Linked DNA regions of Homo sapiens. Changing the gene in region 2 together with the main gene of any one other region gives a genetic interaction. Each region holds a gene or a part of one and is shown on either strand. Other genes may lie near its edges.

Evidence for each region.
Region 1: of PRKN (region 2) and GPR37, changing one suppresses a phenotype caused by changing the other (phenotypic suppression), as found in Homo sapiens cells (one study listed by BioGRID).
Region 3: of PRKN (region 2) and PINK1, changing one suppresses a phenotype caused by changing the other (phenotypic suppression), as found in Homo sapiens cells (one study listed by BioGRID).

Annotation. Positions count from the first base shown.
Region 1 is NC_000007.14:124,755,575-124,759,304, forward strand, and holds part of GPR37 (prosaposin receptor GPR37 precursor), read right to left. Parts: intron 1-3,730.
Region 2 is NC_000006.12:162,255,582-162,259,311, reverse strand, and holds part of PRKN (E3 ubiquitin-protein ligase parkin), read left to right. Parts: intron 1-3,730. UniProt on the Homo sapiens protein: Functions within a multiprotein E3 ubiquitin ligase complex, catalyzing the covalent attachment of ubiquitin moieties onto substrate proteins. Substrates include SYT11 and VDAC1.
Region 3 is NC_000001.11:20,646,958-20,650,457, reverse strand, and holds part of PINK1 (serine/threonine-protein kinase PINK1, mitochondrial precursor), read right to left. Parts: intron 2,144-3,500; exon of another isoform or gene 1,954-2,143; coding exon 1,826-1,953; exon of another isoform or gene 1,464-1,825; coding exon 1,227-1,463; exon of another isoform or gene 25-1,226; coding exon 1-24. UniProt on the Homo sapiens protein: Serine/threonine-protein kinase which acts as a sensor of mitochondrial damage and protects against mitochondrial dysfunction during cellular stress.

The DNA.
Region 1 (3,730 bases), on a different chromosome or scaffold from region 2:
ATTCATTTAACTACAACCTAACATGTTATAATTCCTATCAATCTGTCAGGTGTTTATTAAAATAAAAATGTAAATGAAGCAAGATTAGCAACATTTTGTCTTAAGATATAAACCATCTATGTTAGATTCTAAAGATTCCATGTTTATTCTCAGTAATTACAAAATCATTTCAAAATGTAATATTTCCCCCAAGCCCACAGTCCAGTTCTCAATCTTTGGTATTATTATGATGTTCCTAGTCAATCTTAAAGTGACCTGGAATTTCAGTTCCTTACCTTGGGGTTCTGATGAGTTTCCAAAAAGCAGTAACACATTTTTACCTATTTCCCTTTCTGACTAATGATATTGATTTGCATGACTGTGAACTCAAACTAAAAACAAAATTATGTATAGTTAGGTCATCATGATTTTAATAAAATTGAGAAACCATATTTTAGGACAGAATTTATCTGCTTTTAACCAAAATTTCACTATTGGTAGTCTGTTAAGGAAATTTCTTTCTTGATTCAATCTTCTTATAAAAGGCAGTTATTTCTAAATTGCATATCTTGATGCGAATTGGCTTATCAGATGCTTTTCCGATATAAAAAGGATTTGAATTAGGAAGACAATAGTAAAGATAGGCCCTGAAGATGGGAATTGATGAGGAAGGGGCTATTTTGACAGAAAAAAAGAAAAAAGTAACATCCCTGAATAGAGTCACAGACCTAATAAGAATGTCTCATTCTAGGCAGGGATCAAATCAATGACCTTGGCCTCATTAATGAATGCTATGAACTATTCAAGTGTACAGACAGATAACACTGAAAACTATTACAAATTCACAAATGGAAAGTATTCTGTCTCAAGAACAAGACTGACACAGTGATCATATCCTGCGTTTTATGGAAGTTTATGAAAAGTACCTACACTTACTCTGCAAATAAAAAAAGACCCTCCATATTTGACGTTGCAGTAATCCCATTCTCAACTCCACTCTGAAATTTTGGATGAGATCATCTCTTCTGGCACAAAGAGTATTATTCCAATTAGGATATTTAAGAGTTAGTCTTGGCAACAAGGTTGAGTTCATTATTGGACCTTGGCAGGTCAATTCATGGGAAGTGAAATGACAGGCGCATCCCTGGAGGATGGAGCAGAAGTGCAGAGGCAGAGACAAACTGCACTGCATAGCTGCCTTCCCATCCCTCTCCCACAATCTACATCCCAGACACAGGTCCATGTGCTTCCAATGGGATACTGTTAAAAGGTTGCCGCACATAAGACGAATGCCATTAAAGGTGTAAAAATTGTATCAAGGTCCATGCAGCCTAAATATGAAAGCAAAGGTAGACCCTCACCCACTCAGCCTTCGGTAAACTTATAAGCTCATATCTGTTTTACTTCTGCAGACACATTTGCCTCCTTGTCTCTGTGGAAGGATACTTTGCTGACATGGCAGGATACCTTGGGAGCCCTCAGGAGCTCAGAATAAATCTTCACTCTGATTATGTGCTTGAGAGATTAATCCAATTCTTGAGAAAGTCCATTCATCGTGCTCCCCTTTCCTCGACTCCACAATGGAGTCTAAAGTATCGCCCTTGTCCATCTTCTTTCTTAGGTTCTCCAAGGTCAAGTTAAACAATTTGTATATGTTTTGATTTTTTCAGAAGAAAAGGACTCAATTTAATATACTGTTATTACATTGCCAAATAAGCCATTCATTTAAATAAAATGTTTAATTTTGACGTATTTAGTGTCCTTATAGCTAATAAGGACTAATTGTAAAGCAGAGATAGATATCCTAGGCACTGGCACAAATTCCATATTTTAAAAGAAATTTCTAGAACTGAACTATTTGCTGAATTATTTTGCCAATTATTATTATGGACTTTCTATCCTGGGAAAGCTAAAGGAAACAAAAAAGCAAGAATTAAAAGATTTTCACATTTGTAACTTTTCATCATGGATCTAGGCTGTATAGGCATTTATGAAATTTATGAAGATTAATAGTAAGAATGTAACTGAAAAGAATTAGAGGGAGCACAGTTTTCCCTTTAATTTCTCCATCTCTGGTCATAACAAGCACAACTGTGACTTGACCCATTTCAGTGCCATTTCTGAGCTTCCACGATGCTTTGTTCAAACCTCTATTATAATATTCATCATGGTGTAGAACATTACTTTACTTTTCTGTAATTTTAATGGCAGTGGCTCATCTATGATATTCATCTTTGGAAACTTTTCCCCCTCTTCCTGTATTGCCTTCTCCTGCCCACTCCTAATAGTACCTCGCATAGAAGAAAAGCCAGGTAAACATTTGATAAATCAATGAATGGTGAACAAATGAACGAATGATGACACCTATGGAAAAGGATTACAGAAAATAATAAATTATTCAAATTGTTCTTTAATCAGTTATTGGGTGCTGCTGTTTTATATATAATCCTTAAAAGCTGAATGCCAGACAATATCTATAGAAGGGAAGTTAAAAAATCAATTTTCCTATTTATACTTCATTGACAAGCTTTAGAAAAGGACACATTCTCATTATGATCAATGGAAAAGGAAACTATTTGGATTTCTTATTTGAATATTATAAAACTTTTCTTTCTTGTGGAAGATCCAAATTCAGTTAACTTCACCATACACCATTCAGAAATGGAGTTATAAATAAAAGTGCACTCTAAGAAACACTTTTCTTCCTGTTAGAGTCATCAGCTAAATATTTTCATTTGCATGGGAATATATAAAATGATTACTAAAAGATTAATGGGAAGTCATAAAATATTTGTTCAGCACCATTCTCATATATTGAGCACATTTTCCCTAAGAATACTATTAGTAACTTTAAAATTGCTCATAAAACAGTAAGTTTCCACTTAAAAGTCCGGCAGAATACCTAATGACTAATCCACCTCTCAAAGAAAATTTACCATATGCCATGATAAATGTTCTATTACTTGAATACAGGCGTTCTAGGGAAATCTGTGTAGACTCAGATAGTTGTATGGCACTGTCATCTTCAACCTCCAAAAACCCTTTCTTTCTTGTCAGTGCTAGCTACAATCTAAGGCAATGAAAGAGCCATTTGTTCCACTCAACTTAAAACCAGTATTGCTAAAGTCATTGGAGAAGCTGGTTCCTCTCATTAGAAAAGATTCTAGACTTGTCACAAATTATTCCCAGACCAGAGGCCATGGTAAGACATGTTCCCTTTATTCTCTCTCCACCTCTGTGCAGGAGTTTTATCCCAGTAAAATAAAAATACAGTTAGATCTGGGGTTATCTCATTATAATTATTTGAAGCCTTCTGTTCTACAACACTCCATGAAGGTGTGGGTTCTTTAAACTAAAGAGAATCTCGATCATTCAAAACCTCCAATTAATGTCCAAACAGACCTTAATCTGTTATCTGGGATCTCGGTCAGATGATACCTTGATTCTGACTTCCATTAAATAATGAGCAAAGATTCATTCCAGTTGCCATATTTGATGTCTGAATTATTTGAATTTTTTTTTTTTTTTTTTGAGACAGGGTCCCACTCTGTCACCTAGGCTGGAATGCAGTGGCATGATCATGGATCACTGCAGCTTCAACCTCCAAGGCTCCAGAAATCCTCCTACCCCAGCCTCCTGAATGGTTGGGACTACAGGCATGCACCACCACATCCCGTTAATTTTTGTATTTTTTGTAAAGATGGAGTTTCGCCCTGTTGGCCAGGCTGATCTTGAACTCCTGGGCTTAAGC
Region 2 (3,730 bases):
TCCTACCTGTTGTTCTCACGGAACAATCGGACGCTGGGTGGGAGAACAGAGGCAGGTCGGTGAGAGGTGAACACACCAAGCCAATCACAGCAGCCTGAGACCATTCCTCTTTACGTACTTCACATATTAAACACATAAAACATCTATCATTTGAAAAGATGAAAAAAATCCTTGGTTATACAATGTTTGAAAACCTGTGCCTCAGAAAAAGAGATTAAAAGAAATCCCAATTTTCTGTGCTTCCAGAGTCTTCAATTTTAACTTCGAAGAATATAAGTGCTGGCTGGACGTGGGAGGGCTCTAATGGGTGAATAGCTGGGCTGTAGCCTCATATGTTGTCGAAACAAATGGAAACTTCTGAAACCCGAGAAGGTGCCTTTCAAGTATTTTTAGTTGGCAAAAGATAAGTGGTCAACATGAGAGGTGATAACATGATGTACATGAAGAACCAGTTACACTGTTGGTACTAAGAACGCAAGCATGTCACACTAAAGACTTGTAAGAGGACGTCAAAGAACTGGAACGAGTCATTGAAGTAGTTTTTACAGCAGTGCCACTCAAGCTTTAGTGCTCATCAGAATCACCTGAGGACCTATAAAAGCACAGATGACTGGGCCCAGACCAGTTGGCCTTGGATGGAAGCTGAGAAGTTGCGTTTCCAGCAAGCTCCCAGGTGATGCTAACACCGCGGGCCCAGGGGCTGTGCTTTGAGTAGTACTGCCCGAAATAGTAAAAAATAGTATTCCTTAAAATATGGTCAGTGAATAAAATCTATTTTTACTACATTTTCAATAAGAACGTTGAGCTGCACCTGGGCTCCAGGGTGCCTGTGTGTAAATTACCTTCATGTGTTATTGGTGTTTCCTAAATGAGGCGCCATTCATCATCTCCTGACAGATGAGATGAAGCTATTGGACCTAGCAAAAAAATAGGAGGCTCCTCCAATATCCGTCATACAGTTAACGAACTACATAAACAAATAACGATTGAGTCCTTACTCTGTGCCAAGCACAGTGCCAGGTACTGGGATGTAGCAGAAAATAGAAACAGACAAGATGCCTACCTCAACGGAGCTATTCTATTTGGAGCAGCTAGTAAGTGTGTGTTCTATCGAGAAACAGCAGAGTCAAGGGGACAAAGAGTATTGGTGGGGAGTTCCGTAATATACAGCAGCCGCGAGGCCTGTGTGATGAGCTAAACTGTGAGGAGGGCACCCTCAGGGAGCATCCATTTGTGTGCCAAATGGCAGAGGCGACAGCAACTCGTGAGCCCCAGGCAGGCCCCCGCCCAGAAAACGCAGCAGCCAGTATGGGGTGGAGCTTGGAGCAGGTGGAGCTCGGAGAAGAGGATGTCAGAAAAAGGGCAGGGTGGAGAGGTCAGGTAGGGTCTGCTGGGCCCAGGATTTGACCCTGTTGAGAAAATTTGACTTTTGAACAATGGAGTGACATGATCTGACTTCAGGAAGCCTCATGCTGGCTGCTTGTGAAGGAACTGCAGGAGGAAAGGGTGGAGGCAACACAACCCGGAAGGTTTTCAAATCCTAGAACTGCTGCACTGCCCAGAACATCGCGAACGGGCCATACCTGCAGGCGGTGTCGGTGAGTGCTTGCCGCAAACCTGGCACTATAGAAACCCTGTTTCCCTGAAATACCTCTTTTAATTCCTTGCAGCCTTGTAAGGTAGACCATGTTCATATCCTCTTTATAGATGAGGAAACTGCAGAGACCACTTGAGGAACCGACCCAGACAATTCAAGCCGTACCCAGGGACCGTCTCACTTCAGAGCTTATGTAAAATATCCAGTAGCCTGTGTTTTCCTGAATATAGCTATCAGGTGAAAGGAAATTTTGCATTTCCTCTAGATGTTTTGGTTAGAAAGTAGATATAGTCTTAAAATGGACCTTTTTGAAGAGTCATGTTAATTGATTTCAGCCAAGTAGTCAGATTTTAAAACTATATCACAAGGTATACTACTTTTTCAGAATTTTTTGCTTTTGAGAAAAAAAAAAGAAAAACTGTGGCCACGCTGGCCAGTCTGGTCTGGAACTACTGACCTCAGGTAATCCACTGACCCCGGCCTCTTGAAGTGCTGGGATTACAGGTGTGAGCCACCACACCCAGCCCCATGTTTTTGCTTATATGCTTCCAAAAGGAGAGGAGACATGTCATGAAATAGAGCGGGAAGGAGTGTCAGCATGCAATTGACAAAAAGCTGCGGAGAGGAATACCATGCCGGGGCAGCACAGGCTGAGGCTGGCCCCGTCTACCTTGTGCTTTTGTTCGTGCCTGTTTGGGTTCATGCCTCTGTGGGAATTGTTTTGCTTTTTGTGGTTGGTTATCTGTTTTGAAACATAAAGAAATAAAAAGTAACTGTGGGGGAGAGTAGGTGAGAAATGACAGCATTGGTTGTTGAAGTTAAGTAAAGTACTTGTAGGGAGCCTCAAAATGTTTTGATTTTTCTGAAGTCACCTCTGCAAGGTCATATTGTGATTTCAAGGGGAAGGGAGACATTGCATTCAAGACTCCATGAGGCCTGGCTGGACAGTGTGCTCTTCTAACGACAGGCCTCTACAAATGGTAGTGTCTGGGTGTCCCTCTCCTGGAGGCCTACATGGCCAGTGAAGCAAATCATTTACATCTTTTACTCTTCAAACCCTGAAGTGTTTCAGAGGACACTGCCCATATGCCAAGATGGGGAGATCTGCACTTGACAGGAATGAGCGTGGAGGCAGGGTATTTACAGCTGGGGAGGTCCATCTTGGGAATCATCTGAGCATCGTAATTATTGCAGAGTCTGCCAAAAATGCAGGCAGGCTGCTGGATTCCACTTTCTTAAAGGGAAGATAAAGAAAAAATTTCAAATTAAGTGGTAGAATTTAACTGTCTGTAATACACTCTTTTCAATCTTTCTAAATTTGTTCTGAGTAAATAAGGACTAATGGAAATTTTGTGAAATTTTATAGAAGGTGTTATTTTGTATGACCTGTAGCTTCCAAACATTTCATACATAAATCAAGAATTTATGGTCTACTTATGTAAGAAAAACAGAATTAATAAAATATCTATTATATAATAGAAAATGAAACCCTTATGACAAGGAAAATATCACTACATTCTTTTTTAGAGTACTTTTTGATAATTTCACAGAATCAGGCCCAAACTCCTACACCTTCTTCATCTATTTGACTATAATTAATTTTCCAAATGATACCTCTGATGCTCTGTAAGATCTTACAATTCTTCCTCAATCCCCAAAGGTTGACTACCTTTGGTGTTAGAGGTGTGTTATTAGATTCTAATTCTTTGCAAATTAATGCTCAATCTTTTCTGTGCATGATAATTAAACTCACTAGAGTCCCAGTGCATCAGTGGGGTTGTGATTTGCTTCCTGTAAGAAGGGAATCAAATGGCCGATAATTTACTTCAGTGGATTAAATGAAAATCGTTTGAACCAGTGTTTACCACAGTTCCTGGTATATACTACGCACTGAATACAGAATTTTTGTTGCTAGAAAATGCAGTCAAAAAGGGTGACAGACATTGATTTTGAATCCTTGAGCGCATTCATGGTACCTGGGCTGTGATGTGTCTGCCATGCAAATGCTAAGCCGACTGGCAGTAAGTGTGGGCCCCGGAGCCAAGCAACTTAGCCCGTCTTGGCTCTACTTCTTGCTACCTCTAGGACTCGGAGAATTTACTTTCTTGCAGTCCAAAGTGTGATCTGTGGGCC
Region 3 (3,500 bases), on a different chromosome or scaffold from region 2:
TGCGGCTACTCGGGCAGATGGTCTCTGCAACAGGAAGGGAAGCTGTAGCTAGAACATCTGTTAACACAGTCTCAACCCAAAGCCTGCTTTGTTAGTGAGGGTCTTCCCTTCTCTGGTCCCAACCCAATTCTTCCTCTACCCTATCTCCTACTGATGCCCTTCACTCAGGTGACAAATACTGCCTGTCCCCTGCCCGTGCTCCAAGCTTTTCCATGTGTACACCTCTGCATGGGGCAGCATGCATTGTTGAAATAGCCTTTCCCCCTGGGTGGAAAGCCTAGTGCCTCTTGTGCACAGCTATCTGGTCCCTTGAACCAGGTAAGTAGTCTCCTCTATCATTTCATAACTGGTTGCAGCTGTTGTTCTAACCTTCACTGCGCACCAAGATAGCAGGCCACGTACAGAGAGCAGTTAACGGAGTGGCAGAACAGTGCTGGGGTGCAGGTATGGCTCAGCTCTTTGCACTAAGCCTGCCCCTGAGCCAGCTGCCACTCCAATTATGGCTTCGGATAGGTCTGCCTTTGCATTCCTTTATATTAATTTCACAATGTCCAGATCTGCTCTCAGGAGATGTTTTCCATCTCTCTCTGATCAGTTCTCAGCTGCTTCCATGAGCTACATCTCCATTAAACATTTCTCAAAAATGCCTCCTTTTCTCTCTCTGAATAGCCTTTTTTTTTTTTTTTTTTTTTTGAGACAAAGACTTGCACTGTCACCTAGGCCAGAGTGCAGTGGCGCGATCTTGGCTCACTGCAACCTCTGCCTCCAGGGTTCAAACGATTCTCCTGCTTCAGCCTCCCGAGTACCTGGAATTACAGGCGTGTGCCACGACACTCAGCTAATTTTTGTATTTTTAGTACAGACGGGGTTTTACCATGTTGGCCAGGCTGGACTGGAACTCCTGGTCCCAAGTGATCCACCCGCCTCAGCCTCCCAAAGTGCTGTGATTATAGGTGTAAGCCACCGTGTCTGGCCTCTGAACAACTTTTTCAGCAACTAAAAAAGCCACAGGAGTTGAACTGCTAGGATTCTGACTATGCTGTGGTGGCTAGTGCTCCTACTCCTACCTACATTAAAATCTGTTTTTTGTTCTCTTGTAACTAGCCTTTACCTTCCTAACACAGAGGATCTGTCACTGTGGCTCTGGCCCAAACCTGACCTTCACTCTGGAACGAGAACAGAGGTTTCTACCCACACCGTCCCCTCGAAGCCGGGGACAGCCTCACCTTGCTGGCCTCTCGCTGGAGCAGTGCCCTCACCAACTGTCTCACGTCTGGAGGCACTGACTCGGGCAGTGCAGGTAGCTGAGCCTCTTGGTAGCTGCGGCTTTCAAGGTGGGCCTTGCCCTGGCCGTAGAAGGGATTGACAAGCCCGAAGATTTCATAGGCGATGGCTCCCACTGCCCAGGCATCAGCCTTGCTGTAGTCAATCACTGCCCTGGGGCCAGGACGGGCCGTGGACACCTGCTCAGAAGCAGTGGGTGAGACATCACGCTGCCCGCCCATCTAACCTTTTCATGTCCTGCACATCACCTGATCCATGGGCTAATCTGAACTCTGTCCCAAGGAACCCAGAGCTTGAGTGAGCTGTGGCTCAGACCCAGAAGGGGTCTGCTTAGACCACCTGGTTTATGTGACAGGACTTGCATTCTCCTGGAACATGAGGGAACGCCGGAGGAAAGCAAAGTGGCAGGGAAGGAACTTGTGCCAAATTATGGGTCAGAAAAGATGGAGGTGTTGGGTTATCACAAGGCATCGAGTCTCCTGCATTCAGTGGACATGTGGGGGAAGGGCTGCCGATGGCGCATGACACACTCGGGACTCACCTCTGGGGCCATCAGACAGCCGTTTCCGCCCCGATCCACGTACCAGCTGCTGAAGGGCAACTGCAGGCCGATGCTCTCATCAGCCAGGCAGCAGCCAAAATCTGCGATCACCAGCCAGGGGCAGCCGTCTGGGAAGGAGCAAGCAAAGTGACCATTTCTCCTCCCCTCCTTCCCTCTGAGAGGCCCTCCTATGTCCCTACTAAAGCCACCAGCAAGACATAGCTGACAGGGGCTAATGGCTCAGTGTTGGCCCAGGAGGTCAGCAAGGCCTGAGAGCTGATCAGAAGGGCCTGCTGTGCGAACACGGAAATGCCTCCAGTAAGTACAGGCTGCAAAATCCCCAGGCAAAGGACTGTGTGGCTCAATTTAAATCATGTTCTAGTAATTGGAGCTGTCCCCAAGACCAAAGGAGCTAGAGCTTGGTTCAAATGATCTCCAAGGGCCCTTATACCCCAGGAGACTTTGATTTGAATTTGAAACCCCAAATCCAAACCTAAGAACCAGGTGCATTAAGAATCAGTTATTGCCGGGTGTGGTGGCCTGTAATGCCAACATTTTGGGAGGCCGAGGCGGGTAGATCACCTGAGGTCAGGAGTTCAAGACCAGCCTGGCCAACATGGTGAAACCCCTGTCTCTACTAAAAATACAAAAAAACTAGCCAGGCATGGTGGTGTGTGCCTGTATCCCAGCTACTCGGGAGGCTGAGACAGGAGAATTACTTGAACCTGGGAGGTGAAGGAGGCTGAGACAGGAGAATCACTTCAGCCTGAGCAACACAGCGAGACTCTGTCTCAGAAAAAATAAAAAAAGAATTGGTTATTTGTAAAAGGGTCCACACAAAATTCCTTTAAAAAGCCAGTTCCTGGCTGGGCGCAGTGGCTCACGCCTGTAATCCCAGAACTTTGGGAGGCCGAGGCAGGCGGATCACGAAGTCAGGAGTTCCAGATCAGCCTGACCAACATGGTGAAACCCCGTCTCTACTAAAAATACAAAAATCAGCCAGGTGTAGTGGCGTGTGCCTGTAATCCCAGCTACTCAGGAGGCTGAGGCGGGAGAATTGCTTGAACCCGATAGGCAGGGGTTGCAGTGAGCCAAGATCATGCCACTGCACTCCAGCCTGGGCGACAGAGTGAGACTCCGTCTCAAAAAAAAAAAAAAAAAAAAAAGCCAACTCCCAGCTGGGCGTGGTGGCTCATACCTGTAATCCCAACATTTTGGAGGCTGAGGTGGGTGGATCACTTGAGGCCAGGAGTTTGAGACCAGCCTGGCCAACAGTGAAACCCCATCTCCACTAAAAATAATAATCCCAGCGCTTTGGGAGGCCGAAGCAGGTGGATCACGAAGTCAGGAGATAGAGACCATCCTGGCTAACATGGTGAAACCCCGTCTGTACTAAAAATACAAAAAAATTAGCCGGGCGTGGTGGTGGGCGCCTGTAGTCCCAGCTACTCGGGAGGCTGAAGCAGGAGAATGGTGTGAACCTGGGAGGTAGAGCTTGCAGTGAGCCGAGATCATGCCATTGCACTCCAGCCTGGGTGACAGAGCGAGACTCAGTCTCAAAAAAAAAAAAAAAAAAAAATCAAAAATTAGCTAGGCGTGGTGGCACCTGCCTGTAATCCTAGCTACTCAGGAGGCGGAGGCACGAGAATTGCTTGAACCTGGGAAGCAGAGGTTG